7 linked regions of the Homo sapiens genome follow. The protein of the gene in region 6 purifies or fractionates together with the protein of the main gene of each other region. This does not show direct contact. Each region holds a gene or a part of one and is shown on either strand. Other genes may lie near its edges. The genes, in order: TAF1B, UGGT2, POM121C, DNAJB12, THEM6, SLC9A4 and TMEM131L.

What was found.
Region 1: the proteins of SLC9A4 (region 6) and TAF1B purify together in Homo sapiens (affinity purification with mass spectrometry; one large-scale study listed by BioGRID and IntAct). This does not show direct contact.
Region 2: the proteins of SLC9A4 (region 6) and UGGT2 purify together in Homo sapiens (affinity purification with mass spectrometry; one large-scale study listed by BioGRID and IntAct). This does not show direct contact.
Region 3: the proteins of SLC9A4 (region 6) and POM121C purify together in Homo sapiens (affinity purification with mass spectrometry; one large-scale study listed by BioGRID and IntAct). This does not show direct contact.
Region 4: the proteins of SLC9A4 (region 6) and DNAJB12 purify together in Homo sapiens (affinity purification with mass spectrometry; one large-scale study listed by BioGRID and IntAct). This does not show direct contact.
Region 5: the proteins of SLC9A4 (region 6) and THEM6 purify together in Homo sapiens (affinity purification with mass spectrometry; one large-scale study listed by BioGRID and IntAct). This does not show direct contact.
Region 7: the proteins of SLC9A4 (region 6) and TMEM131L purify together in Homo sapiens (affinity purification with mass spectrometry; one large-scale study listed by BioGRID and IntAct). This does not show direct contact.

What each region holds. Positions count from the first base shown.
Region 1 is NC_000002.12:9,846,474-9,849,973, forward strand, and holds part of TAF1B (TATA box-binding protein-associated factor RNA polymerase I subunit B), read left to right. Parts: intron 1-2,899; coding exon 2,900-2,987; intron 2,988-3,500. UniProt on the Homo sapiens protein: Component of RNA polymerase I core factor complex that acts as a GTF2B/TFIIB-like factor and plays a key role in multiple steps during transcription initiation such as pre-initiation complex (PIC) assembly and postpolymerase recruitment events in polymerase I (Pol I) transcription.
Region 2 is NC_000013.11:95,857,902-95,861,401, reverse strand, and holds part of UGGT2 (UDP-glucose:glycoprotein glucosyltransferase 2 precursor), read left to right. Parts: intron 1-518; coding exon 519-614; intron 615-1,726; coding exon 1,727-1,811; intron 1,812-3,500. UniProt on the Homo sapiens protein: Recognizes glycoproteins with minor folding defects. Reglucosylates single N-glycans near the misfolded part of the protein, thus providing quality control for protein folding in the endoplasmic reticulum.
Region 3 is NC_000007.14:75,434,300-75,437,799, reverse strand, and holds part of POM121C (nuclear envelope pore membrane protein POM 121C), read left to right. Parts: intron 1-113; coding exon 114-285; intron 286-3,500. UniProt on the Homo sapiens protein: Essential component of the nuclear pore complex (NPC). The repeat-containing domain may be involved in anchoring components of the pore complex to the pore membrane. When overexpressed in cells induces the formation of cytoplasmic annulate lamellae (AL).
Region 4 is NC_000010.11:72,344,920-72,348,419, reverse strand, and holds part of DNAJB12 (dnaJ homolog subfamily B member 12), read left to right. Parts: intron 1-3,292; coding exon 3,293-3,470; intron 3,471-3,500. UniProt on the Homo sapiens protein: Acts as a co-chaperone with HSPA8/Hsc70; required to promote protein folding and trafficking, prevent aggregation of client proteins, and promote unfolded proteins to endoplasmic reticulum-associated degradation (ERAD) pathway.
Region 5 is NC_000008.11:142,733,723-142,737,222, forward strand, and holds the end of THEM6 (protein THEM6), read left to right. Parts: intron 1-1,603; coding exon 1,604-1,717; 3' UTR 1,718-3,205; downstream 3,206-3,500.
Region 6 is NC_000002.12:102,472,044-102,476,025, reverse strand, and holds the start of SLC9A4 (sodium/hydrogen exchanger 4 precursor), read right to left. Parts: upstream 2,801-3,982; 5' UTR 2,267-2,800; coding exon 2,011-2,266; intron 1-2,010. UniProt on the Homo sapiens protein: Electroneutral antiporter that exchanges sodium for protons or ammonium ions at the basolateral membrane of epithelia to regulate cell volume and intracellular pH upon hypertonic conditions.
Region 7 is NC_000004.12:153,464,928-153,469,159, forward strand, and holds the start of TMEM131L (transmembrane protein 131-like isoform 1 precursor), read left to right. Parts: upstream 1-1,432; 5' UTR 1,433-1,470; coding exon 1,471-1,594; exon of another isoform or gene 1,595-1,978; coding exon of another isoform or gene 1,979-2,189; intron 2,190-2,283; coding exon 2,284-2,354; intron 2,355-4,232.

The sequences.
Region 1 (3,500 bases), about 93 Mb from region 6:
CTTAAGAAAGGCAAATTTGGGACATTAAAAGTAACTGTGTAGACTTCTGCTTCTGGCTAAGATGGACTAACAGAGACCAGACTTACCTTTGTCCCCTAAACAATGAAAAACCTGGACAAAATATATTAAATGAGTAAAAGGAAAAACATTTTCCCTTGACAAAACTGGTGAATTGAGCTTGCAGGTGTGTCACACAAGTGCTTTTCCTTGAGGCAGTGTTCTTGAGTCTGCAGCTGGAATGCTTATCTCTGCTTCCTGTTTAGTCATACAGAATATTAAAAAGATATGTGCTCACTTGATGAAATTGTTGGGGTGATGGAGATATTTATTATCTTGATTATAGTGGTGGTTTCATGGAGATATATTTTGTGTGTGTGTCTGTGTGTGTCAGATTGTGCACCTGACAGATGTGCAGTTTGGTCCTCACCCTCATTGTGTAGTAAGGAGCTAGCAGTTTTACTCACTGTTGCTTTTGTACTATAGTGCAGGTGTAAACCCAGTGAAGAAAGATTATGTCTAATGGAGTATTTGCCATTAGTAGATGAAGTCAGCATACTATTTTTATAGGAATTGAACTACATTAACTAATTGCTTTTCTATTTTTGATTTTGATACTGTTTCCGTTTGATTCTGTTTGATCAAATCTGCTGCAGTCATTTTTTAGTTTGAAAGATCCTAATACTTCTCCCTAGCTCCACATTTGGAAGACTGTCAACTCCTGTGGAGTAATTTGTCAAGAATGTAGAGTTCATGAAGGTGGACAACATCTTTATAAAGACCAAGAACCTAGCTCAGTGCCTTCCTTTCAGACGACAGGCTTAAAGGAAAAAAAAGTTACGTGTTGCACAACTTCAGTAGTTATTCTTGGCTTTATGGCGGTCCAGGCATGTTCTTCACATGGACTGTGAGAATATAATGTGGTAGGGGCTCCCTGGAGCTGAGCAGTGTGGCGATGGTGATGTTGAAATACAGTGGGTGGGGAATGGCAGGTGAGACAGTTACAGCTGTGAAGAATGGAAGTCATGGTGCAACTTGCCCTATTTTTCTGCCCCTTTTATTGCCCCCTCTTCCTTGGCATGTAACTGTCAAGCTCCAGACACGCTCTGCAATCTGGGAAAGGCCTTCCAGATTGATAAAGGAACCAAAATGTTATCCTAGTATATTTTATCCAGGAAAAAAAAATGTAAGGTCATAAATCTGTTCAATTTAGACAATAGATATTTTTGCAAGAGTTTCACGGATATTTAAAAAGGTGTAGGCTAGACTTGTGTGAATGTAAGAGATTTTTATGATCATAAGAGCAATGCATGTTTACTATAGAAAATTTGGAAATTGTGAAGATGAAAGCTAAAATCACCAGTAATCTCTACATTTGTCTCTTTTTTCCTGTGTGTGAAATGGAGAAAGGGATGTGTGAGTGCTGTTCAATCTTCTGCCGTAACAACTTGGAAAAATACTTTTATCTAAACATTTGCAGACATTTTTTATAGACTGTAAATATTCCATAATGGCCATTTGGTAATTTAATTAATTATAGCTCTAGTTTTGGATGTTTCATTTTTTCAGGTTTTTTGCTCTTTCACGTTTTGTCTAGTACAGATTTTAAGTCTTTTTTTCCTGGCTACCCTTTGCAAGTTTTACTGTCTTTGCTAGATAATGGCTTTTGTATTTATTTTGACGTGTCTTATGTTTTCAGTGTGGCCAACCCAGTATACCAAAATTGCTTTGAATATGGTTTCTGTGATTAGAGAGACTACGTTCCAAAAATCCTGTTGGTAGAGACATTTCTTTTATTCTTATGGAGGGTTAAAGATAAATTTCATTCCAAATCTCTAAATTTAGAAAAACAGTAATGTCCTCTGTTGGTTAAAAATCCTCACCTTTCTTCTGGCATTAAGACTCAATAATGGGGGCTGGGCACGGTGGCTCATGCCTGTAATCCCAGCACTTTGGGAGACCGAGGTGGGCAGATCACCTGAGGTTGGGAGTTTGAGACCAGCCTGACCAACGTGGAGAAACCTCGTCTCTACTAAAAATACAAAATTAGCCAGGCGTGATGGCGCATGCCTTTAATCCCAGCTGCTCAGGAGGCTGAGGCTGGAGAATTGCTTGAACCTGGGAGGCAAAGGTTGAAGTGAGCAGAGATCGCACCATTGCACTCCAGCCTGGGCGACGAGAGCGAAACTCCCTCTCAAAAAAAAAAAGAAAAAGACTCAATAATGGGAACATTTATTCTACTTTATGGAATAAAGTGTGGCCCCATTTAAAAAAAAAGACTCAACACTTTATTTTTAGTTGTGGGAGAGCCAGAATCTTTGATATTTGCCCTTGAGAGCAGTTAAGATTGAAGACTCTGATATGAATTATACTAACCATTTTAGTCATTCTAAAGTTCTCTAAGTTTGATTAAAAATAAAATGTAATACGTACTTTTATAATTTCAGAAATGAAAGCAGTTTTAGAGTATTATTCAAAGACATGGAAAAGTAGGCCAAAACTAATCTGTCTGTAGTTTAGGCATTACCAGTTACAAAAAATACATAAAACTGTTTTCATACCAAAGTGTATTTTGTGTGGAGAAAAAAGTGAGTAGATGTAACTTTTAGTTTGGCTTGGTTTGTAAAAGTTAAAAAGTGATTTAAAATAAAAGTTATTCATTTAACAAACACTTTATGGTTACTGTATTCCAGGCACTGTTTTAGTTACTGAGAAATTTTGAATGAAAAAACAACATCAACATTAACTAGAATGTTAAATGTTTATAATTTTCCCAAGATTTTACCATCCTTGGTCCTGGCACTCACAATTTGGTTTATTATACTTTCCAGAAAATACCTGGAAAAATGCTTAGGGGGATGTAAAACGATCTTTTTTAATGGTCTTTTTCTCTTTCCTGCAGAGATATCAGGAAGTTACAAACACTGATCTTATTCCTAATACCCAAATAAAAGCCCTCAACCGGGGGCTTAAAAAAAAAAACAATACTGGTAAGTTCTTTCTTCATATGTACTTAACATTCTTTATTCACATCTTTCACCTTCATGATGTCAGGACATGGAATGGAATTTTAAGTAGGTTCTAGAGAAAATGCCAGATTTTATCTACTGGCATACGTTCTTCTATCCTATGTCTGTATTCATTGTGGGTGAATATTATTTCTGGTGCTTTTATAGAAAAAATGCTTATTTTCTGAAATAATTCAACCGTGGAATTGTTAGGTTAGGTGAGTTAAATATGATATTCAACTTCTAGAAATCCATTTCTTGTGTTGAATTTTGAACACACCTTTTTAAAATTGGGAAAATTATTTTCCCTTAAAATGACCTCAACATGAGTGTGCTTTGAAAGGCAAAGTATTTCATTAATCCAGTGAGTACATATAATTAACCATTGTTGAGAAGGATCTTAGGTAAAGTCTAACTGATGGTTTTTATTTTTGTGACTAGGTAGCTAGGACCAAATCCCCAAGTTTGAAACCAGGCTGATGATAATGGGGACTC
Region 2 (3,500 bases), on a different chromosome or scaffold from region 6:
ATACCCTGCGTGGTGGAGAAAATCTGCTTGGTCAGAGGAGCTCCAAATTGTAGATGGTTTAAAAATATTTTAGCCTGGATGAGCCCCATCAGCAGCACTCACACACCTACCCTGTTACCACATAAATTCTTGCTGTGCCGTAGTTCCACACTTAAGCATTCTGTTCCTTCCCTCATTGACCTGTTTAAACTTTCAGTACACTAGATATGGCCATGTCAAGCTGTAATTCATTCTTTGTTCTGAAAACAACCTTTGGCAACTCACAAAAATTCAAAAATACCAGCCCATTCACCTAAAGACAATATAGTTATATTCCACATTACAAATTTAAAAAAAAACTCATAAAGCTTCAAATGATATTGTCAAATATTTTAATATTAGTTTGTAAATATTATAGAGTGTTTATAGCTTAACTATTTTGAAATACATTTCTATATTGATTGCTTATATTTACTATTTAGGCATACAATGTTTCCATATGTATGTTTAAGAAATGTCAATTACTTTTTTATTCCAAGTTTCACAGTAAGCTTGCATAAAGAAAACAAAAAGGAAAAAGATGTCCTAAACATTTTTTCAGTTGCTTCTGGTCATTTATATGAACGTTTTTTAAGGTAGGTATATTTTTTAACCTTATATTTTGAAAAAGAAATATTTACATGGTTCAAATTTCAAAAAAAAATAAAGGAATATACACTGGGAAAAAAAAAACTCCCACCTCTGTTTCCTTGATACTCAGTTCCTTTTCTCACAGGAAACCCATAATATTATTTTTATATCCTGCTAAGGAGATACATACACACACACACACGTAAATATATATGTGTATATTTATTTATTTATTTCAGTTGTTTAAGTCCTTTTACCCAAATAGTAAAGAACATACTACTTTACACCTTGCTTTTTTTTTTTACTTAAAATTATGAGGTAAGTATATATAAATATGAAATTTCATGAGTTTGGCTTGATTTGGAATATTGGTTTTCTTCAAGGCTAGCAAATAGACATTTTGGATAGGTAAGAATATATATATATAGATATACTCACAATATATATATTTACAGTACTTTATATATACAATATTTATATATATATAATTTACTATAGTAAATTATCCTTTTCCAGTGAAGAAAACCTTGTTTTATAAAAAGGAAGGGAATGAGGGGAGAAATGCATATTGCAAAGTACAAAAGGCTATTTTTAAACAGTTTATATAGAAAGGTCACAGAGAATAACTCAAAAATATTTGAATTGTAGCACTGATACGTTAAAATGGAACTTCAGATTCATTTGTATCCTTTCCATTTGGAGGTTTAGGTTAGCAAACCAAATGACCCATCCAGTGAATTTGTCAATATAGATAGATCATTCAGCTCTTCAGGGTTTGTAGACTTAATATTAATCACACAGTCATGGACAGCTGGGCCCAGGTGAAGCTACCATGATGTATATGTATTCATCCTTACACATTACATACTTGATAAACCATATTTTAGTTTATTTCTTCACATTTCATTGTGAAAACCTTCTAATTCATACCTTCAATTATTTAAAAGCCTTTAAAAGACCTATGTAACAAACCTGTATGTTCTGCACATGTATCCCAGAACTTAAAGTAAAATTTAAGAAATTAAAATTAAATTTTAAAAAACACTTCAAGGTTAAAAAATATATATGAGCTCCTGTTACTGTTAATGTATATTGGGTTTAATATTCTTTTATACAGAATTATGATGCTTTCTGTTTTGCGTAACACCAAAACACCAGTGAAATTCTGGTTGCTAAAAAATTATCTCTCACCGACATTTAAAGTAAGTACATAGCTTTTTTTGTAGAATGGTTAATGTTTGAATAGTAAATTATTTGTATCATTGTAAGTTTATATGATATTTCTCTTTTCAGAATAAGCTTTTTGAAAAAATGGTATTTAGTATTTTTATGTAGCTTAAGAAAAATTCTGTACAATTTTTATTTAGAGATGTTCAAAGGAGAGGACAGAAGACTGTATATTTTTAAGTAAAATCAAAATCAGAATGGCTAGTAGTTTTTCATGATAATGAGTAATTAAATACAATTTGGCAATGGAAAATATATACAGATTTTCAATTAAAAGAAATGGATTCTGTCATTTTTGCAAAGATAGGCAGAAACAGTAGTAGTATCAAGAAAATACAAAGACTATACCTATACCGTAGAAAATAGTTTTACAGTACTGAAACAAAAAAGCTCTTTCGTCTGTGTAGTGTATTGATTGCTGGGCACCATGATCTGAGGCATTTTATATTTAGAAGATTTCAGGTGATCAACAGCTATTACCCTTTACTCAGCCCTATACTCCTGCTACAAAGTATACTCTGTTTCTTCCTATTCTCCCTACAGCATAATCAAATTCCGTGAAATTTAGTGTCTCCGCAGCAATTTGGTGTCTCATTCAACAGCATTTCAAATGAGTTTGTTTTTTCTAGACCAAAAGCAGTGGGAAAACAGAAGTAAAACTAGCCAAGCATGCTTTTATTCCTTAATATTTCTAGGCATGATGCCAAGTGTTTAACTGACGTTATTCAATTGTTTTTCATAACAATCCCACATGATAAGAAAACCAAGATTCAAAAGTTACGTAACTAGCTTGCACAGTTGAGAGGTACCTGAGACCACTTTTAGATTCAATAACTTACTATAAGGATTTATATAACTCCAAAAAACAGCTGTGCTCACAGTTACAGTTTTTATAGCAAAAGGACACAAATAAAATCAGCAAAAGGAAGAGATGCTTAGGGTAGGGTCCGGGGAGACCAGACACAAAGTTAACAGTTGTCCTCTCCCAGTAGAATCCCGTTACAGTGGATAGCACTTATTTCTTCCAGCAACAGTGTGTGAGGGTACTCGTGGAGTATTGCCAACCAGGGAAGCTCATTCAAACTTTGTGGTACAGAGTTTTTATTGAGGGTCAGCTGTGTGGACTTGGCTAACGGCCTGCATGACTAACCTTAACCTCTAACCCCTTCAGATGTTGAACTGATGCTTTGTGGCCCAAGGTCCTCACTACAAATAACATCATTAGCATACAATATCTAGTGTGGTCCGAGATCTGCAGGTAAACGTAGACATTCTTATTAGTCAGGAAATTCCAAGGGTAGAGGATATTTCCTGGGAGATAGGGTGAAGGGCCAGGGTAGGGGATATTTCCTGGGAGATAGGGTGAAGGGCCATACTTTTCTTTGAGCAAGAATCATCCTTTATAGCATAGGCCTGATATGAAACAGCTAATTAGAAACACAGCTGAGATTTGAACCCAGGCATTCAGACCTCAGGTGCTTAACCTTATGTAACAGCCCATTTGCCCTCCACCACCAACAGTGTCTCCTCCTATGCTCATTTGACAGTAGGAAAAAAAAAAAAAAACAGAAAAAGAACCTATAAATATAGATAAGAAGTTATACTATTTTTCTACTAATTTTTTAACATGCTTTCCTAGTAGTCAGACACTGAATAAGGGAGTA
Region 3 (3,500 bases), on a different chromosome or scaffold from region 6:
AAAAGCATTATTCTCTTCCCTTCATGTTATTAAGAAAGATGTCATGACCGTGGATGAAATCGTAAAAGAATGTTGCCTTCAATAAAGCATCTAACTGTCTTCTCTTTTATTAGGCCTGGGTCTCTGAAGAGAGGCCTCAATTCTCAGAGCTCAGATGACCACTTGAATAAGAGATCCCGAAGCTCTTCCATGAGCTCCTTGACAGGCGCTTACACAAGTGGCATCCCTAGCTCCAGCCGCAATGCCATTACCAGTTCCTACAGCTCCACTCGAGGCATCTCACAGGTACAAGTACAGCTCTTGTAATGTGGGGGGCATGAATTCCCAGCGTTCATTCATTGATTAGGGCCAGACATGGTAGCTTAGCCATGTAATCCCAGCACTTTGGAAGGCCAAAGCGGGAGGATTGCTTGAGCCCAGGAGTTCAAAACCAGCCTGGGCAATATAGTGAGACCTTGTCTGTACAAAAGAATCTTTAAAGAAATTTTTTTAAATAAAGTAATTGGTTAGCAAAAGTTTACTAATCACCTTCTATCTGTTGGACATTAGGATTGTCTCTAACTAATAGAAAATACAGATCATTGAGTGATCAATATAGGCCAGCAGAACGGAGTAGAAAGCCCGGAATGTAAAGCAGTGCATGTGTGCGAGCTGATTCGAGACAGAGCTGTGATGTAGATAAACGGACAGAGGGTGATTCGAAAGGTAGACTGAGTCCAGCTTGTATTGGGTCATAAAAGAGATTTATAGGCATTTAGAATTGAGCGCAGGGTTTTTAAACAAGTGGTCATGATTTTTTGGAAAGGGGATTATTGCATAGTATAAGGAACAGAGCAGGCTTTGCTGCTGGACAGACTTAGATTCAAATCTTGGCTCTGAGGCTGGGCGGGATGGCTCATGCCTGTAATCCCATCACTTTGGGAGATCAAGGTGGGAGAACCTCTTGAGCCCAGGAGTTCAAGACTAGCCTGTGCAACAGAGCGAGACTGTGTCTCAAAGAAAAGGAAAAAAATGCTTGGCTCTGACATCTAGTAGCTATAAGGTCTTGGGCAGACAATCACATAACATCTCTTTTTCTTATCTCTGAAGTGCTGTTGCAATGATTGAGGGTAATATTTAAAAAGCACCTATTACAGTGGCTGTCAGTAAGTGGGTATCCAGTATACAGCAGCCAGACAAAAAGATGTAAAGCATGTAAGGAGAAACGTTTTTGAGACAAGGAAAATTTTGAGATGAGTTCATCAGCCCAGAAGGCTCTGAGTCATATAAATGAACATTAATAACCATAATACCATTACCCCTCTTAAATTATTAACCTTAATATTATTTAATATCTAGTTATTATTTTTGATAAGCAAACTTTTCCAGCTTTGGACTATGGGAGCCAAACTGGCTCCTGTATCCTTTATTTTGATCCCAGCAGTCTTCGACAGATAGCTTCATTGCTTTTTGCCCACCTTCCCAAAGTCCATTTTTAGCCTATACTGAAGTTGGTTGTTTCTTCAAAAAGCTTTGGTTTCTTCCAGTTAGAACTGTAGAGACTACAGTCTAAGTTTTAGGAGAGATAAGATAGACAGATCCTCTAGAAAGAGGAATGTAAAGAATTAATTCATAATATTCCAAATTCAAATTTATGGTGGCAGGATTTTTTATGTAATCTATTTGATTTTATATTTTTATGTATTACACCAAAAATGTTGGTTTATAATTACTTTGATCCTAGTACATGCAATTTCTTTTTTTTTTTTTGAGACGGAGTCTTACTCTGTTCCCCACGCTGGAGCGCAGTGGTGCGACCTTGGCTCACTGCAATCTCTGCTTCCTGAATTCAAGCGATTCTCCTGCCTCAGCCTCCCAAGTAGCTGGGATTACAGGCTCTGGCCACCACGCCCAGCTAATTTTTGTATTTTTAGTTTGACACAAGGTTTCAACATGTTGGCCAGGCTGGCCTGGAACTCATGACCTCAGGTGATCCACCCACCTTGGCCTCCCAAAGTGCTGGGATTACAGGTGTGAGCCACCATGCCTGGCCATGCAATTTCAAAATAGCAATATCAGTGTCATTATTAACACTGTCATTATTAAGACTGCTGAAGTCAGTTTAAGAATTGTGATTCATTTGGTCTTTATATCCCTCTGTGAATCCTAGGGACATGTAATCAATATATCATGTTTTAAAGTAATGTTAATTGTCCTTTGGGTACACCAACTTTATATACAGTGAGGTTCGTTTGTTCAGTATGTTTGAAAGTTACAGGGATTTCTATGTTTTCCTTTTTGAAATAGTTCTATTTTAAATTACATAAAATACTTGTTGTTTGAAAAAAATACGCTAAAACAAGATACACTCAAAAATTCAATTTCCATCCCTTTCCACTCTACATTTTTCCTTCCTCTCCATTTTTATTATTTTTTGATTATCCTTTGTTGTTCTTTTTTAAACGGTATGCGTATCAGTGTATCTGAAAACTGCCACCTTCTAACATTTAAGGTAGTAGACAGTATATATAGATTTGAACCTTGCTTTTTCACATAATAGACAGTTGACGTCATTCCATAGCAGTACACAGAAACTCATCTTTGGTCTTACAACTGCATAGGTACTCTAGTCCTCTATTGACAAACGTTGGGTTGTTTCAGTCTTCTGCTATCACAAATAATGCTGCAAAGAATACATTTGTTCATATGTCCTTTCACCCTTGGCAGTTTTGCCTCTGGAAAAATTTCTAGAAGTCAGATTCCGGTCAAGGGTTAAATGCGCATGTGATTTTGCTGGGTATTGTTAAATCCCCCTACAGGGCATGTACCACTCAGCATTCCCCTCAGTATTGAATGAAAGGGACCATTTCTCCCTGGCCTCACCAGCAGATTTGGTTATTGTAGCTCTGGGCTTTTACCAATTTGACAGGTAAAAAATAGTATCTAGGATGGGCATGGAGGCTCACGCCTGTAATCCCAGCACTTTGAGAGTCCGAGGCAGGCAGATCACCTGAGTTCGAGACCATCCTGGCCAACATGGTGAAATCCTGTCTCTACTAAAAATATAAAAATTAGCTGGGCATGGTGGTGCACGCCTGTAATCCCAGCTACTCGGGACGCTGAGGCAGGAGAATCTCAGGAACCCAGGAGGCACAGGCTGCAGTGAGCAGAGATAGCGCCACTGCACTCCAGCCTGGGCAACATAGTGAGACTCTGTCTCAAAAAAAAAAAAAAAAAAGCTAGCTGAGCGCCACCGTGGCTCACTCTTGTAATCCCAGCACTTTGGGAAGCCAAGGCAGGTGGATCACCTGCGATCAGGAGTTTGAGACCAGCCTGACCAACATGGCAAAACCCCATCTCTACTAAAAATACAAAAAATTTAACCAGGTGTGGTGGCGTGTGCCTATAATCCCAGCTACTTAGGAGGCTGAGGCAGGAGAACTGCTCGACCCTGGAAGGCGGAGGTCAAGTGAGCCGACCTCATGCCACTGCCCTCCAGCCTGGACAACAGAGTGAGACTC
Region 4 (3,500 bases), on a different chromosome or scaffold from region 6:
ATCCAGATGCCTGTTTTCCCAGCTGGTCAGCTTGTCAGAGGCTTTAGGATTTTACTACCCAGGGCGCTGGGGCCCAGGCCTGACTGAGGTTTCGTGCCTGGAATAAATGGACACAGGGACCTGCTGCCAGAGACTTGGGCCCTTCCTCATTTAATCTGCAGGAACCACAGGCTTGTTTTTGCTTGCTTTTGTTTTTTTGAGATGGAGTCTTGCTCTGTTGCCCAGGCTGGAGTGCAGTGGCACAATCTCAGTTCACTGCAACCTCTGCCTCCCGGGTTCAAGCGATTCTGTGCCTCAGCCTCCCGAGTAGCTGGGATTACAGGCGCCTGCCACCACGCCGGCTAATTTTTGTATTTTTAGTAGAGACGGGGTTTCACCATGCTGGCCAGGCTGGTCTCAAACTCCTGACCTCAGGCGATCTGCCCGCCTCAGCCTCCCAGAGTGCTGGGATTACAGGTGTGAGCCACCATGCCTGGTGGGCTTGGTTGTTTTTGTTTTTGTTTTTCTGAGACAGAGTCTCATTCTATTGCCCAGGCTGGAGTGCAATGGCATGATTTCGGCTCATTGCAACCTCCGCCTCCCAGATTCAAGCCATCCTGCTGCCTCAGCCTCCCTAGTAGCTGGGATTACAAGCGCCCACCACCATGTTCGGCTAATTTTTGTATTTTAGTAGAGACGGGGTTTCACCATGTTGGCCAGGCTGGTCTTGAACTCCTGACCTTGTGATTCGCCCGCCTCGGCCTCCCAAAGTGTTGGGATTACAGGCGTGAGCCACAGCGCCCAGCCGGGCTTGGTTTTCAATAGCCATGATGCTGCCGAGGGTGATAGTTAATGTCCTGTATAGACTCCAGACATTGAAGAGGACATTTGGCATGGCCAACCACTTGCATTAGAAAAATGTGAAAAATAGCAAGTTGTGAGCACAGCAGATACTTCTTTTGGTCTCCTACCATCTGTGTCCCCCTTGGGCAAACTCATTTCCCCCATTCCTCTTTACAGCTAAGCAAAGGCCTCCAGGAAGGCTTCCTGACTGATCCCACCTGAAACAGAGGGTCCTGCTAAGCGGGGTCCCCTTTGCAGGGTACTTTTCCCAGCTTGGCACTCAACATGCCAAGTCTGTTAAACTCACTACTTTGAGATCTTAAAAATCTGAAGGGTTGACTGGGCACAGTGGCTCATGCCTGTAATCCCAGCACTTTGGGAGGCCAAGGCAGGCGGATCACTTGAGGTCAGGAGTTCGAAACCAGCCTGGCCAACATGGTGAAACCTCATCTCTATTAAAAATACAATTAGCCGGCGTGGTGGTGTGCACCTGTAATTCCAGCTACTTAGGAGGCTGAGGCGGGAGAATCGCTTGAAACCGGGAGGCAGAGGTTGCAGTGAGCTGAGATCATGCCATTGCACTCCAGCCTGGGCAACAGAGTGAGACTCCGTCTCAAAAAAGAAAAAAAAAAAAAACCAATGGTAAAAATAGGGAGTAGTGCAGTGGACTGAATATTTTACTTATTCAAAATGTGGTGCAATGCAAACATATTTGCAGATTTGAATGAGTTCAGTAGAAAAAAATGGATTCATAAGTTGGATTCATAAAAGCAAAAAGCAGAGTAAAACCAAATACACTGAAAGAAATAGCAATTAAAGTAGTATTAAATGAACTCTAGCAAGGCACGGTGGCTCATGCCTGTAATCCCAGCACTTTGGGAACCCGAGGTGGGCAGATCACTTGAGGTCAGGAGTTCGAGACCAGCCTGGCCAACATGGTGAAACCCCATCTCTACTAAAAATACAAAAATTAGGCCGGGCACGGTGGCTCACACCTGTAATCCCAGCACTTCGGGAGGCCGAGATGGGTGGATTGCTTGAGGTCAGGAGTTCAAGACCAGTCTGGCCAACGTGTTGATATCCCATCTCTACTAAAATACAAAAATTAGCTGGGCATGGTGCTGGGCGCCTGTAATCCCAGCTACTAGGGAGGCTGAGGCGGGAGAATTGCTTGAACCCAGGAGGCGGAGGTTGCAGTGAGCTAAGATCATGCCACTGCACTCCAGCCTGGGCAACAGAGCAAGACTCCGTGTCAAAAAAAAAAAAATTAGCCAGGCGTGGTGGCACGTGCCTGTAGTACCAGCTACTCAGGAGGCTGAGGCATGAGAATCACTTGAACCTGGGAGGTAGAGGTTGTAGTGAGCTGAGATCGCACCACTGCACTCCAGCCTGGGCAACAGAGTGAGACTCTATCTCAAATAAACAAACAAATAAAAAAAAATAACTCTAAATAAAGTACTATAGGGTTTATTAATAAAACCAAGTGTGCTTTTGGAAGACTATCAGAATATCAGAATTCTGCCTAAATTTATTAAGAAAAGAGATATATGTATAAGTATACTATCTGAAAAATAAAGCAATTACTACAGATTTATCCATGAATTATGTAGAATTTTATGTCAATTTTTATTAACAAAATTAATTTTGTTCATGTAAAACGAAAAAGACCTCTATCCTGCCTACTTTTTTTTTTTTTTTTTTTTTGAGACAGATCCTTGCTCTGTCGCCCAGGCTGGAGTGCAGTGGCACAATCTTGCTAATCTCCACCTCCTGGGTTCAAGCAATTCTCATGCCTCAGCCTCTCAAGTCTCTCGAGTAGCTGGGATTACAGGCGCCCACCACTATCTCCAGCTAAATGTCTTTTGGGGTTTTTTTTTTTGTATTTTTAGTAGAGATGGAGTTTCACCATGTTGGCCGGGCTGGTCACAAACTCCTGATCTCAGGTGATCCGCCCGCCTCAGCCTCCCAAAGTGCTGGGATTACAGGCGTGAGCCACTGTGCCCGGATTTTTTTTTTTTTTTTTTTTTTGAGACAGGGTCTCACTCTGTCACCCAGGCTGGACTGCAGTGGCACCATCTTGGCTCACTGCAACCTCTGCCTCCCTAGTAGCTGGAATTACAGGCGCCCGCCACCACATCTGGCTAATTTTTTAATTTTTAGTACAGACGGGATTTCACCACATTGGCCAGGCTGGTCTCAAACTCCTGACCTCAGGTGATCTGCCTGCCTCAGCCTCCCAAAATGCTGGGATTACAGGTGTGAACCACCACGTCCGGCCTGTCCTGCCTACTCTTAAGGACTATGGCTTTCAAGAGAGCAGATGACTGTCCCCCCAGCACCCACAGGCCTAATCAGGGCAGGAGCTGGTGGCTTTGCTGGGAGGGGAAGTGAGTGGGAAGCAGCGGGCCGCTCGGCGAGGCACGCAGCCTGCTTGAGCAGGAGCTCTGAATGGTTTCCTTGCCTTGCACAGCCCTGATTGAGTCCCTCAACCAGAAACCACAGACTGCCGGTGACCAACCCCCACCCACAGACACAACCCATGCCACCCACAGGAAAGCAGGTGGGACCGATGCCCCCTCGGCCAACGGTGAAGCTGGAGGAGAGAGCACCAAAGGCTACACTGCAGAACAGGTTGCAGCTGTGAAAAGGTAGATGGGTGGGCAGGGGCTGGAGCCTGG
Region 5 (3,500 bases), on a different chromosome or scaffold from region 6:
TTTAGAAAGTTTACTTTGCCAAGGATAAGGACTCACCAGTCCTGACAACATGTGCCCAAGGTGGTCGGGGCACAGCTTGCTTTTATACATCTCAGGGAGGCACAATACATCTGTCAGTACATGTAAGATTCACATTGATGCCATCTGGAAGGGGGGCTTTCAGGTCATGGTAGATGTAAAAGTTTTCTGATTGGCAGTTGGTTGAAAGAGCTATTATCAGTAGAAAGGCATGTCTGGGTTAAGATACTGGTTGTGGAGACCTAGGTTTTATTATGCAGATGAAGCCTCCAGGCTGCAGGCTTCAGAGGGAATAGATCATAAATGTTTCTTGTCGGACTTAAGGTCTGTGTTGTTAATGCTGGAGGGCATAACAGGCCTGTCCCACACCCTCTTCTATCATGGCCTGGGCTAGTCTTTCTGGTTAAATGTGGAGGGCCCTGGCCTATTGGAGGAAGTTCATTCAGATGGTTGGGGGTACCTTCCGATGTTATTTTTGGTTTACAGTCAGGAACCCCCTAAAAGGCCTAGATCTCTCTCTGTCCCCAGGTGCTGGACTCTATGTCTTTCATGCATCTAGAGTCCAGAGGCAAAGGCCACCAAGGCTGAGAGCCGGGCACGGAGGCCGAGGAGATGGGGAGCCAGGGTTGCTTTTCTGGGAAAGAGGGAGTGATAAAATCAGGCATGGGCTGGTTGGTGAGGTCCCTGTGGGAGGTGAAGGCTGGGACCCAGAACAGCAGAGACTCTGTCGATGATGTGGAAAGACCGCGGCTGCAGTTTGGGCAGGCTGAGCCAGGGTTGGGTCTTGCATGTTGAGAGGCTGGCCTGCGGTGATGTGGCCAAAGAGGAAGAGCTGGGCTGGGGTGAGTGTTGGTCACATGGTTGAAACTAGGTGGGGAGGGGAGTGGTCCAGGGGAGAGTCCAGGCCCAGCTCTGCTGGGACTTGCCATGGGGGTCACGACTCATCTGCAGGGAAGGTCTGGGCTTTATCTCTGAGCACCTCTGTGTGCTGCTCACCCTGAAGTGGGGGTGGGCCTGTGCCTGGCCTGTCCCCTCATCCTGGGAGCTCCCAATGCCCATCTGCAAGGCTGTGGACCCCTCAGGAGTGGCCTGGAGCCTGGCTCCCATTGCCACATGGTGGCTGTGTGTGTGGAGAGGGTTGATAGTGGAGTGGTCAGGCCCAGGCTGCCCTGGGGGATGAAGTGCCATCCTCTGGGTGCCCTGGAGAAAGAAGAGAACTCAGTGAGCCCTGTCTGGTACTTTCCTGGAGGAGGGCTCCCATGCTGGCCCTCCACCCCTCTGTCCCCTGTCACCCTGAGGCCTCTGGATTTCCTCTCTGCCCTTCCCAACCTGCCAACTTCACGGGTTTCTGGCTGGGTTCTGGGGATGGCCCCTAGGGGAGACGGGCCAGGCACAAGCGGGGCTGTGTCAAGGTGGGTATGCAGGGGTAGCACAAGTGTGCAGAGCCTGGGGAGGCATGGGCAAAGCATGGCAGGCGGCGGGGCAGGGGATCTTGGAAGGTCACGGGCTGGGGAGCAGTGTGGGCAGCGGCCCAGAGGTGGGAAGGCCGTAGCTTAGCTGGGTGTCCCCTTTCTGTCCTCTGCAGGTGGAGCCCCCTGAGCTGCCCGCTGATCTGCAGCACTGGATCTCCTACAACGAGGCCAGCAGCCAGCTGCTCCGCATGGAGAGTGGGCTCAGTGATGTCACCAAGGACCAGTGACCGCCACCTTCACACCGTCTGCCCTGGCCACCATCCTGGGCCTGGGGGCTGCCCACAGATGGGCAGTCTCAGCCATACTCTGTTCCAGCTGGAGTAGCCTCCTGACCAGCCTGGCCCACCCTGCTCCACCCACTGGGCCCCCCCAGTTATTGATACCCCTCTGTGCTGGGCTCCACGCTAGGCAGAAGGAGGAGTGGCATTGGCATCCTGACCCAGCTCTGCCCTCAAGGTGGGGATGGATGGGCAAAGGAGAGTCCTGCCTGGCCCTACGATGAGGCCACTCATGTGGGCCTAGGTAGGGGAGGATGGTGCCTGGAGCAGAGGGACCCACAAGTGCCTCCCGAGCCTAGATCCTGGCTCGGACCACTGCAAGGGCCGAGGCAGGGCCAGACCAGAGCATCCTGGGTACAGGCCTGGGCTCTCCAGGGCCTGGGCCTGATTCAGGTGCAGTGGGCACTCCTGAAGGGTCAGAGCGGCATCTGCCAGGCAGCCCCTCTGGCTTCCGCTGAGGTGGTTGCAGGCCTGGGGCAGAGCCTGGGTGGTCAGAGGCCGGGGCTAGAGGCAGATGGAAGGGAGGCATTTGCTGACAGAGGACGGGGCACCCGGGCTCCCCACTGCAGTCGGCCTTGCCTCCTCCTCCTCCTCTACCTCCAGTCAGGCTGGACGGGAGGGTAGCCTTGTGGCTGAGAGGGGTCAGACTAGGTGGCACAGGGGCTCCTGGAAAGACAGCAGGCTTCCTGCTGGGCGTTCCCTTGTTGGAGGGAATAGAGTGGGGGTGGGACTCTGCAGGGGTGTCCTTGTCCACTCGCACCCCTCGCCGCCCACCAGGGCCATGCTCTGTGACTTGGGCTGATCCCCACCCTTTCTGGGCCTACAGCACCACAGGCCGCTGTACCCCCTTAGAGCTGCCCCTCTCTGGCCTGGCCGGCAGGCGTCTTCTTAACTCCTCTGTCCTCTATATTCAGCATGTTCCTTGTCAGCTGCTGGGCCGGCCCTGCCTTGCGCTAGCAGAGCCTCTCCTGGCAGCTTCTCAGGTCTCCCTAATGGAGACACCAGGCTACTAGGACACTGGCTGGGGCCACCCCCTCCTGCCTAATGCCTCACCTTACAGCTGGGGAAACTGAGGCCTGGAATGGCCCAGAGTCACCAAGGCAAAGTTGGGGCTGGTCCCAGCCTGAGGCTCCAGCTGATGCCCTCAGCTCCCAGAGAGGGGGTGCCCCATCTAGCTGGGTGCAGGGGTCACTGCTTGTCAGCTCAGGGCCCTGTGCCCGCTTGCCTGTTCCCCTACATCTGTGCCTGCACATCCAGAACTGCCTCCTTGCCGCTGCCTCCAGGAAGCCCACCTTGAGCCAGAGTCAAGGGCTGCAGCACTGCCCGATAGAACACGCCCGCCCTCACTGCTGTTCTTGCCTTACAGCCACCATGGGAAAGCTGCAACCTTTCTGTTTTATTTAAAGAAAGCCCAACATTAAAGGGTTTTCATTGCAAGCGTGCTGGGGAGGGCCTTGTTTCTGAGCTACCACCACCACCATCCATGCAGGGGCGGAGGTGGGACCAGGGAAGCTGGGGCACATTCCCAAGATGGGTGTCTGGCATGGGGGGCTATCCAGGTTTGTTGGGCTCCCGTGAACTTAGGGATCAGGCTGGCAGGGCAGGGCTTGTCCTCATCCCATGGGGCATAGGACTGAGGCCAAGAAGGTGCTGTCCAAAGCCCCCTGGGGAGCCAGCCCTTCCTGCTCCGGCCCTCCTGGTTCCCAGCTCTCGAGGCTTGCAGCCCCATCTA
Region 6 (3,982 bases):
CATGGTCATTTCCACATATTTCATGGGTTCTCAGAAAATGTACCTTGATGGAATGAGGAATAAAAGAATGAATCATAATAATGATTATTAATTTTATTCTGATTCATGTTTTATAACATAATCTTTAAAAACTCATATGCATTTCTTAAGTGCTGAAATTATAAATCATCATCATCATTATTATTTTGGCCCTAGTAAACAAGCCCTTATACATAAAACTACCAGCCCAGTAATTGGCACATAGTATATATTCAATAAATATGGCCTTTTTATCTCCTCACTCCTCATGTCCATATGGAATATAAAAATAATCTAAATTCTTGAAGACTAGTAAATATGAAATTGTACTCGAATAAGCGTGTTCTGATATCCTACTCTTTTTTTCTAAAGTATGTTAAATTACATCATGAAAATCAAGAACATTTAAACCAACAGTTCTATGAATAATCGTATTTTCACAGTGTTCTTCGCTCCTAGACAGAATGAATCTGGGTGCATACAATGCCTCTACAAAACAAGCTAGGTTTTACACAAATATAAAACCAAGACAAAATGCAGCCTTTCTGCGTTTAGATGTTTACTGATAAACAGAGCAACTAGCTAGTCAGTGACAGGACGAGTTTCCTGGTACTCAGATTGACTTGAGCCATTTCTGTGAAGAGGAAGCCAGGTTGTGGAATGGGGAGCAGGGAACACAGAATCTCTAGCATATTGTTTTAAAAGGAAAACTCAAGTACCAAGTAAGATCACCTTGAACACAATCAGTGTCTATATGATTTCACAAAAGATGTTAGACTGTTCTGAACTGAGAATGTTATCCATTTGGAAAGCCATTTTTACTTGTATACCTCTTAAAAATATAGTAAGATCCTTTGTGTAACTTATTCACTAAGCAAATTGCACAAGACTTCTTCAAACTAACATTCCTATTTAATATTCACACTTTACTAGCTCAAAATGAATAGCAACTATAAAGGAGAGTCTAAAGGGGACACCTATACCAGTGTCCCCACACCCACAGGGAGGGAGCTAAGTGAATAGCCAGAGCACACAGAAGGTAACTGCCAGACCTCAAGGCTCAACCCACATTACACACCCATCCTAGAGAAAACATACACATATAAATAAATGAGAATTAAAATGTTTCATTGATTCTATCTCAATAAGGCAATCTACATACTCAAATAGCATAAAGTTTATAGCTGAGGCAAAGGAGGCATTGTGCTTAGCATTTGAGATAATTATATTAATTTTCCACTTTAGAATAAGCTGGTTTTAAAGAGATAAGGAGGAGCAGTTAGGGATTAAACAGTCACAGAGTATAGCCACCTCTTTGGTTTTTGACACAAAGATCCCTTGATTGGAATTTAATCTATTAACTTGGATTCACTTTATTTCACAAAGGAAATTAGAGGTGCCTCACTGGCCCCACTTGGTAGGTATAAACTAATATTTTACTGACAGATATAATCTTATATGCCCCGACATCCCATCACTGAGTAATACAAGTTGCCTATGGTTTTCTTGTTTTTTGCTTTCTGTCAATTTGCAAGAAGCACACGCTACTTTTAAAGAATAAACAATGGGGTGATTGATGAAGCCCACAATTACACAGCCAAGAATATTTTACAGAAGAAACATTATGTGTTTCCTGAAATTTCCACCTTGCATCATGCCCAGGTCTACGTGCTTTATTCTCTATATTTTTAAAGCATAGAATTTGAGAGTTTTGCATGTCAACAATGTCACATGGTTGTCACCCTGAAATGAGAAGAAACCAACACAGCCCAGTACCCAGAAGTATGCTCTCAAATTTCAAAGAGCAATCTCAAAGTATTAAATAGCTTAGTAAAATGCAGTTATGACTTTCCCTTGACTGAAGGGAAGAGAATTTTTAATGTAATAGCAGTAACAGTTAAAATCCTCTTAGCCCGTTATCTATAAGGCATTTTCACATTCACTATCTTATGTAAAAAGATAACTCACCAAACCAGGTGTTTAAGGACTTACCTATTTTTGCAAGGGATGCTAGAAGTATCCAGAGAGTGACCTCATAAGGAATTTGCACATAGTCATAATCCAGTTCAAAAACAGATATCCCTTCCTCTGGCTCTGAGCTGGCAGCAGCAAACCAAGCGTTAGATGCATACTGAGCAGTGGAATTTGCAGATTCATTCAAATCAGAAGATGCTTCAGAACACTCAAGAGCCACTAGCAGTAGCAAACAATTCCAAGGACTGTAAGTCACGAACATCTGCAGAGCCATTCCTGTGGGCTTCTCCTACCTACACCCCTGTGTGGATGTGTGCCACACATCTGAAGTCGGGGAGGCTTCTAGAGAGTGACTGCATCCACCTGGGTCAAAAGTAATATAGGTACAGTCTGTGGGTCCTCCCAAGAAGATTCCGAGTGTGTTATTGAGCTCTGTATGTAGACACTTTCTAATCTGGTTTAAATCGTTTGTGTTCAGGCAACTCAGCTTCCAACTCAAATGCAGTTATTCAATAGACTTGTTAAAGTCCATGGAGCTACCTGGAGGACCTCCATCCAATCATGGCTTGAGCAATTTATGAAAGAAATAAAAATCTCTTCACTTAAAGGCATTTCCTCATTTCACTGCATACTGGCTTTGTCTTGTGGGTGAAAATTTAAAAGGATACTGTAGTGCTCATTCCACAGATCACTGGAGTCCTTCTAATGAGGAAAGGAAACCTTCCCTGTCTATCAGATCCCAAGAAGGAGCTACCTGATCTGCGCTTGTTCCTTCTCTCCTCCCCCTGTCCTCTCATTTGTTTTGAATGACCACGGCTTCAGGTAGCTCTGGAACTACACTTAATTATTTGCTTTGATTTGACTTTTGTAATGAAATCCTTTCTCTGAGGGTTCTCTGGAGGTCACACTGCTGACACCTAGTGGGCACCTGCAATACAACACCCTTGACACTTTCAGTTATGAACGTTAAGGTGACCATGAAATTATCTAAACCAGGACACTTTGGGGAATGAATAATAATGATAATTATGCAAAGCTATAGGCACAAACCAGAATTGTCCAGCAAACTGTCTTATATGGTCTCTATACATGAGGAAGAAGGAGGATAAGAAGGAGGTGGTAACAACAAGGATGGTAGCAAACACTGAAACTTTTGCATGTTACCAGACTCCATGAGCAGTCATTCATAGAAGGAATGAAGTTCCAGATCTCTATGAACTTTACACTATAATTTTTAAAAAACAGGAAGCCAAAGAACAAGTTCCATAAATACACCTAAATACCTGGATTTGTAAAACTCCATGGCACATCCAGATTTTCCATTTAAAAAACATTTGTTGTTGTTAAAAAGAAGCAGCATCATAGAATGTTGATGAAAGAATTTTGAGATAATTTTTATGAGCCTACTTCTCGCTCTTCTACTTGTTGCCAGGTGACCTTGGTGAAGTTAATTACCTTTCAGAAATTCCTTATCTGAAACAGAGAGGAAAATATCTGCCTCATTGAGTAGCTAGGAACATTAAATGAGATAAAGCAAGTAAAGAATTTGGCATGTAGTTGGCACTTAAATGTTAGTTTTTATTTTAAATTACATTTCTTATACTTTTAGGATAAGATACAACACTTTTGCAATGATTACTGATACTCAGTAAAAAATGAGAATAATACATCATCCATATACTACCCCAACATCTCTTTTACATCAAACTGCAAGATGCTTTGTGTTTTGTTTTTTCTTAGTTCATATTAGTGAGTGCAGGGGATTTCCCCCCAGCCAACACACACACACACACACACACACACACACACACACACACACACACACTCAGCTAACATCACTGGGAAATTGAGAAAGGAATGGTTGAGAAGGGCTAACACCTAGATGCAAATTCATAGTGAGGCAATAGAATTAAAAGTTCACATATGAATATTTTTTCTTTTTCCTTCAGTTTGACTCCAGAATAGATTAGATTCAGTCACTGAAATGAGA
Region 7 (4,232 bases), on a different chromosome or scaffold from region 6:
GTATTCAAGTTGGAAAATGCAAAGTGTCCCTTTTTTTTTTTCACATCAACAACTTACGTTTATGCTAATCTACTTAAATGTTAAGTCTGGCCAAGCAATTAGACTATTTAACCTTGTTTGGAGTTAAATGCAGACAGTGTGTGAGACTGTGTTCACAGTACTGTATTACGTCTTTAGGAAAGAGGATCTAGATTTCATTTTGTCCTTCTCAGGATTGTGTCTGCTATGCAAGCACTGGTTTTCTATAGTCTGGCTTGTAAGGCACAAGGAGCAATTAAACAGAGGATTAAGGTAAACAGGTGTGTCCCATCACTTCCCCTCTTCATACTATATTGTTCATATTCTCTGAATTTCATACAAGCTACAGTGGAAGCAGTAAGTTAACTTTAAAAAATCATAAGATTGCCCATACTTCTAGGTTATGCAAATTGATTTCTGAATAAGCCCTTGTTTGCGACATCGCTGGTAAAGGCAGGATGTTAACTTAAAGAGATGCCAGATTTTGGACTTGTTAGTTATAGGCATCAAAACCTGGAACTAGGAAATGTATTTCCACGTATTACTTCCATTATCCTACTAATGTTAGAAACAGGCAACTAACCACATCCTCGACCCCAACCATATTTCAGGAGAGGCTGGCTGAATTTTGCAATATGATTCCAAAAGGGAGTATTTGCAGGGTCTTTGAAGCTATAAATCCCCTAGGAAGAGTCTTCCCCACCTGTCAGGACCTGGACAGTGTCCACAGAGGGTGCCGGGCGCACTACCGCCACGCGGCGCTGAGGTCTGCCTCTCGGGTTTTGGGAGAGCTCTTTTTATTCTAAATTACAGACTTTGCAGCCACCGGATATCCTCGCTGCATAACTGGCAGTGGCCATGTGGCTGCACTCGCGTTTCCTGACAACCACTGCATTATTTCCACTAATATCCTGTGTCCAAGGCCTCTCGCTTGGCGACTCCTCGTTCCCACCTCCACCGCCACCTCTTCCCTCGAGGGTAATCTCTCGACCGTGGCCCAAGCGCCTCGACAAAGCGGCAACCACCCAAAAGTTCATGAAAATGCACTTGGCAAAAGTGGGCCGCTAGTCCCCGCGGACAGCTCTAAGCGACCCCGTCCCAGCCGAGGAAAGCGCCCGGGCCCCGCAGAGTGCGCGCTGCGGGGCGGGCCCGCGGCCATGTGCTCCGCGCCGGGGCGGGGCACCCGCGGGTTCGCATTGTCCACTTTCCCCCGCACCCCGCCGCGTTCCGTCCCTCCCTATCTGCGGCGCACACGCGCTCAGAGCAAGCGGCGCGCCCGGGTCTGGAGCTGCAGCAGCTGCGGCAGCGGCGGGGGTGGTGCGGCGCGGGGCGGGGCGGGGCGGGGCGGGGCGGGGCGGGGCGGCACGGGGGCGGGCCCGGGGCGAGGCAGCTGGGGCGCCAGCGAGCTAGCGGCGAGCGCGGCGAGCAACGGAGAGGAGCGCGAGCAGCAGCATGGCGGGGCTCCGACGCCCGCAGCCCGGCTGCTACTGCCGCACCGCGGCGGCCGTGAACCTCCTGCTGGGCGTCTTCCAGGTCCTGCTGCCCTGCTGTCGCCCGGGAGGGGCTCAGGGACAAGGTCAGCCTTGCGCCGCTGGGCTCGCTCTGCCTCTCCACCCCGCCCCCGCTCTTTCTTTTAGGGAACTGCTGAAATCTATAAGAGGGCGAGGGGAGGAAAGGGAAAGGGGCAGGAGGAGGAAGGAAAGCTGTTGCGATTCTCCGCTGATAACATTTTCTGACCACAGCGTCCCGTCCCGCGCCTCTCTGCCCCGTACAGCTGGAGAGCGGGGCAGTCGCGGGGCTTGGGGACCGCTAGCCGCTCGCGCCCTGGAGCCTTTGTGCGCGGGCCCCTGCGCCCCGGGCGCAGCCCCCGCTTTGTGTGGCGCGCGCGGGTGCCCCGCAGCGGCCCGGCTTCCTGCAGCTTTGTTCCCCCGAGCCTGGCCGCCCAGGGTCCACACTCCAGATGCTCGGGCTGCGGAGCCCGGAGTGCCTCGTGGGGTGTCTTCACTCCCACTTCGTCCCCCCACCCCCAGCACGAGCACCCCGAGCCTGCCTGCACGCTGTCGCCTTCGCGTCCGAGGGGCCGCCGGCTCACACCCCACCCATTGTATTTTTATCCTTGGCTCGCCCCTGGGATGGCCTCTGTTCCCAGGAGGAAAAAGAGACGTGTTTTGGTGAGGCGGGGGGCACGGAGGGACGGTAGGGGAAACAGGAAGCGTTTCTTTAGCGTGCATTAAAAACGTGGTGTATTTTTTGGTGTTCCTGCAGCGATTGAGCCGTTGCCGAACGTGGTGGAGCTGTGGCAGGCAGAAGAAGGGGAACTCCTGCTGCCCACTCAGGTGAGGACGACCAGGTGACAGGGCGGCTGTGGGTGTACGAGGGAGGAGAGGCGGGGAGGCCCCCGGTCCTCCCCACCCCCTGTCCAAGCGGCACAGGCGTTCGGGCCACTTTGCAAGGCAAATAAACGTTAGGGGCCGAGCCTGAACACCTGGCAACGGTGGCCTTCCCGGCTCCTCCCACGCCATGTGACAGGGCCTGAGGCAGGCCGGCCCCAAGTTCAGAAGGTGGGAACCCAGGCCACCTCAGCAGGGAAGCGGCCAGCGGTCTGTTCGGCCGTGGGTGTCCTGGGTGCACACTGTTCCCTAAGTGAGCTGGTGCTGTGTGGATGGCAAGTGGCTAAGAGGTTGAGGACAACAGGAGTATTGATTTCATAAATGTTAGAGTGGTATTTGCCATTAGCGTTAAGTAGCTTTGGGATGGAGATGTGACTCTCAAGGATTGTCATCTTGGATTTTCTCCAAGTGCCCTTAATTCCTGTTAAAATACACCCACTTAAGAACTTGAATTTCTGGTTTTTTTCTCTGTATGATGATATGATGATTGCGTGTAGAAAAATAATTACTGACGTTTTATTGGGAATCTGTAGCATCATAGAGGGTTTATTGCTGCAACAGATACAGTACTGCAAAGCTTTTAACTTTTACAAGAAATTCCCATTGACTGTGAAGTGTGCACATTTAAATATAATGTTGTTGACTGCCTTTCACCAGTAACGGTAGTGATCCAAAATGCATTTTTTGGGTGGGAGTGGCTTGAATTATAAGGAAATATTTAGCTTGTGTGCAGTACTTTTTAAGATGTTCATTACTTCCCACGGTGGTGGCAGCACTTAATTCTGTGTTGTGTCTTGCGGCTGTTTAGAAAAACAGGATGTCTAGCTATAACTTTACCGGAGAGGCTGTCCAGTTTTACATTTCAGTTTTCTCCCTCCTATGTGAAACATTCAGAGTGCTGGTTTTGAGATATTTAGAATATTCATTTTGATCAGGGCTAATGAATAACAGCTTCAAGGCAGAGAGGTGATTTTAGAGGAGAATTTTCCTGGACCCTCCTTGAAGGCCAGCAGCCTGAATGAGACAGGTCTTTTGAGAAAGGGCCCCATCAGGATGAGGAGCAGATAGTTTTTCCTTCTCCTAAAAATTTATTCCCAAATGGATTTTTTCCCCGATTTTAAATAATATACATGTGTTTTTGAAGGTTTGGAAGATACAGAAATATAAAAAGAACAAAATAGAAATCCGTCGTATTCCTACTGCAAGAACGACATTTAACGCGATGTATTTATTTTAAAAAAATTATGTTTTTGTATATCAGAGTTGTTCAACAGTGGCACTGGTGACATTTTGGGCTACAGAGTTCTTTGTTGTGGGGGCTGTCCTGTGCACTGTGAGATGTTGAGCAGTTAGCATCCCTTGCCTCTACCCACTAGATGCCAGTGGCACTCACTGCTGCTTCCCCCTCTCCCCCACCCCCTCCTGATTTTGACAACTAAAAATGTTTCCAGACATTGCTAGATGTCCCTGGGGAGCAAAACTGCCCTGGTTGAGAAGCACTGGTGTATATCTATGTATATGTATTTGCATTTTTGCTCAATTATAGTTTCTATCTCTTACTGGCTAGTGTTGGAAGCCAACCCAGACTAAAAGGAAAGTAAATTATAGGTGATTGAGTCTAGTAGTATATACTCTCATTTGTTAGAGCGTTAGTTGAAGATTTAGTAGGTGTGCTCAGAGATGGAAATGTCAAGGCCTAAATGATTATTTGATTTATGGGCTCAAAAGTTATTTTATACAATTCTTAATTTCTGGTTTATTTGTATAATACAATTTGTTTTGATAATAGATGTCAGAATTCAGAAGCTGTCTGGGATATTCAGT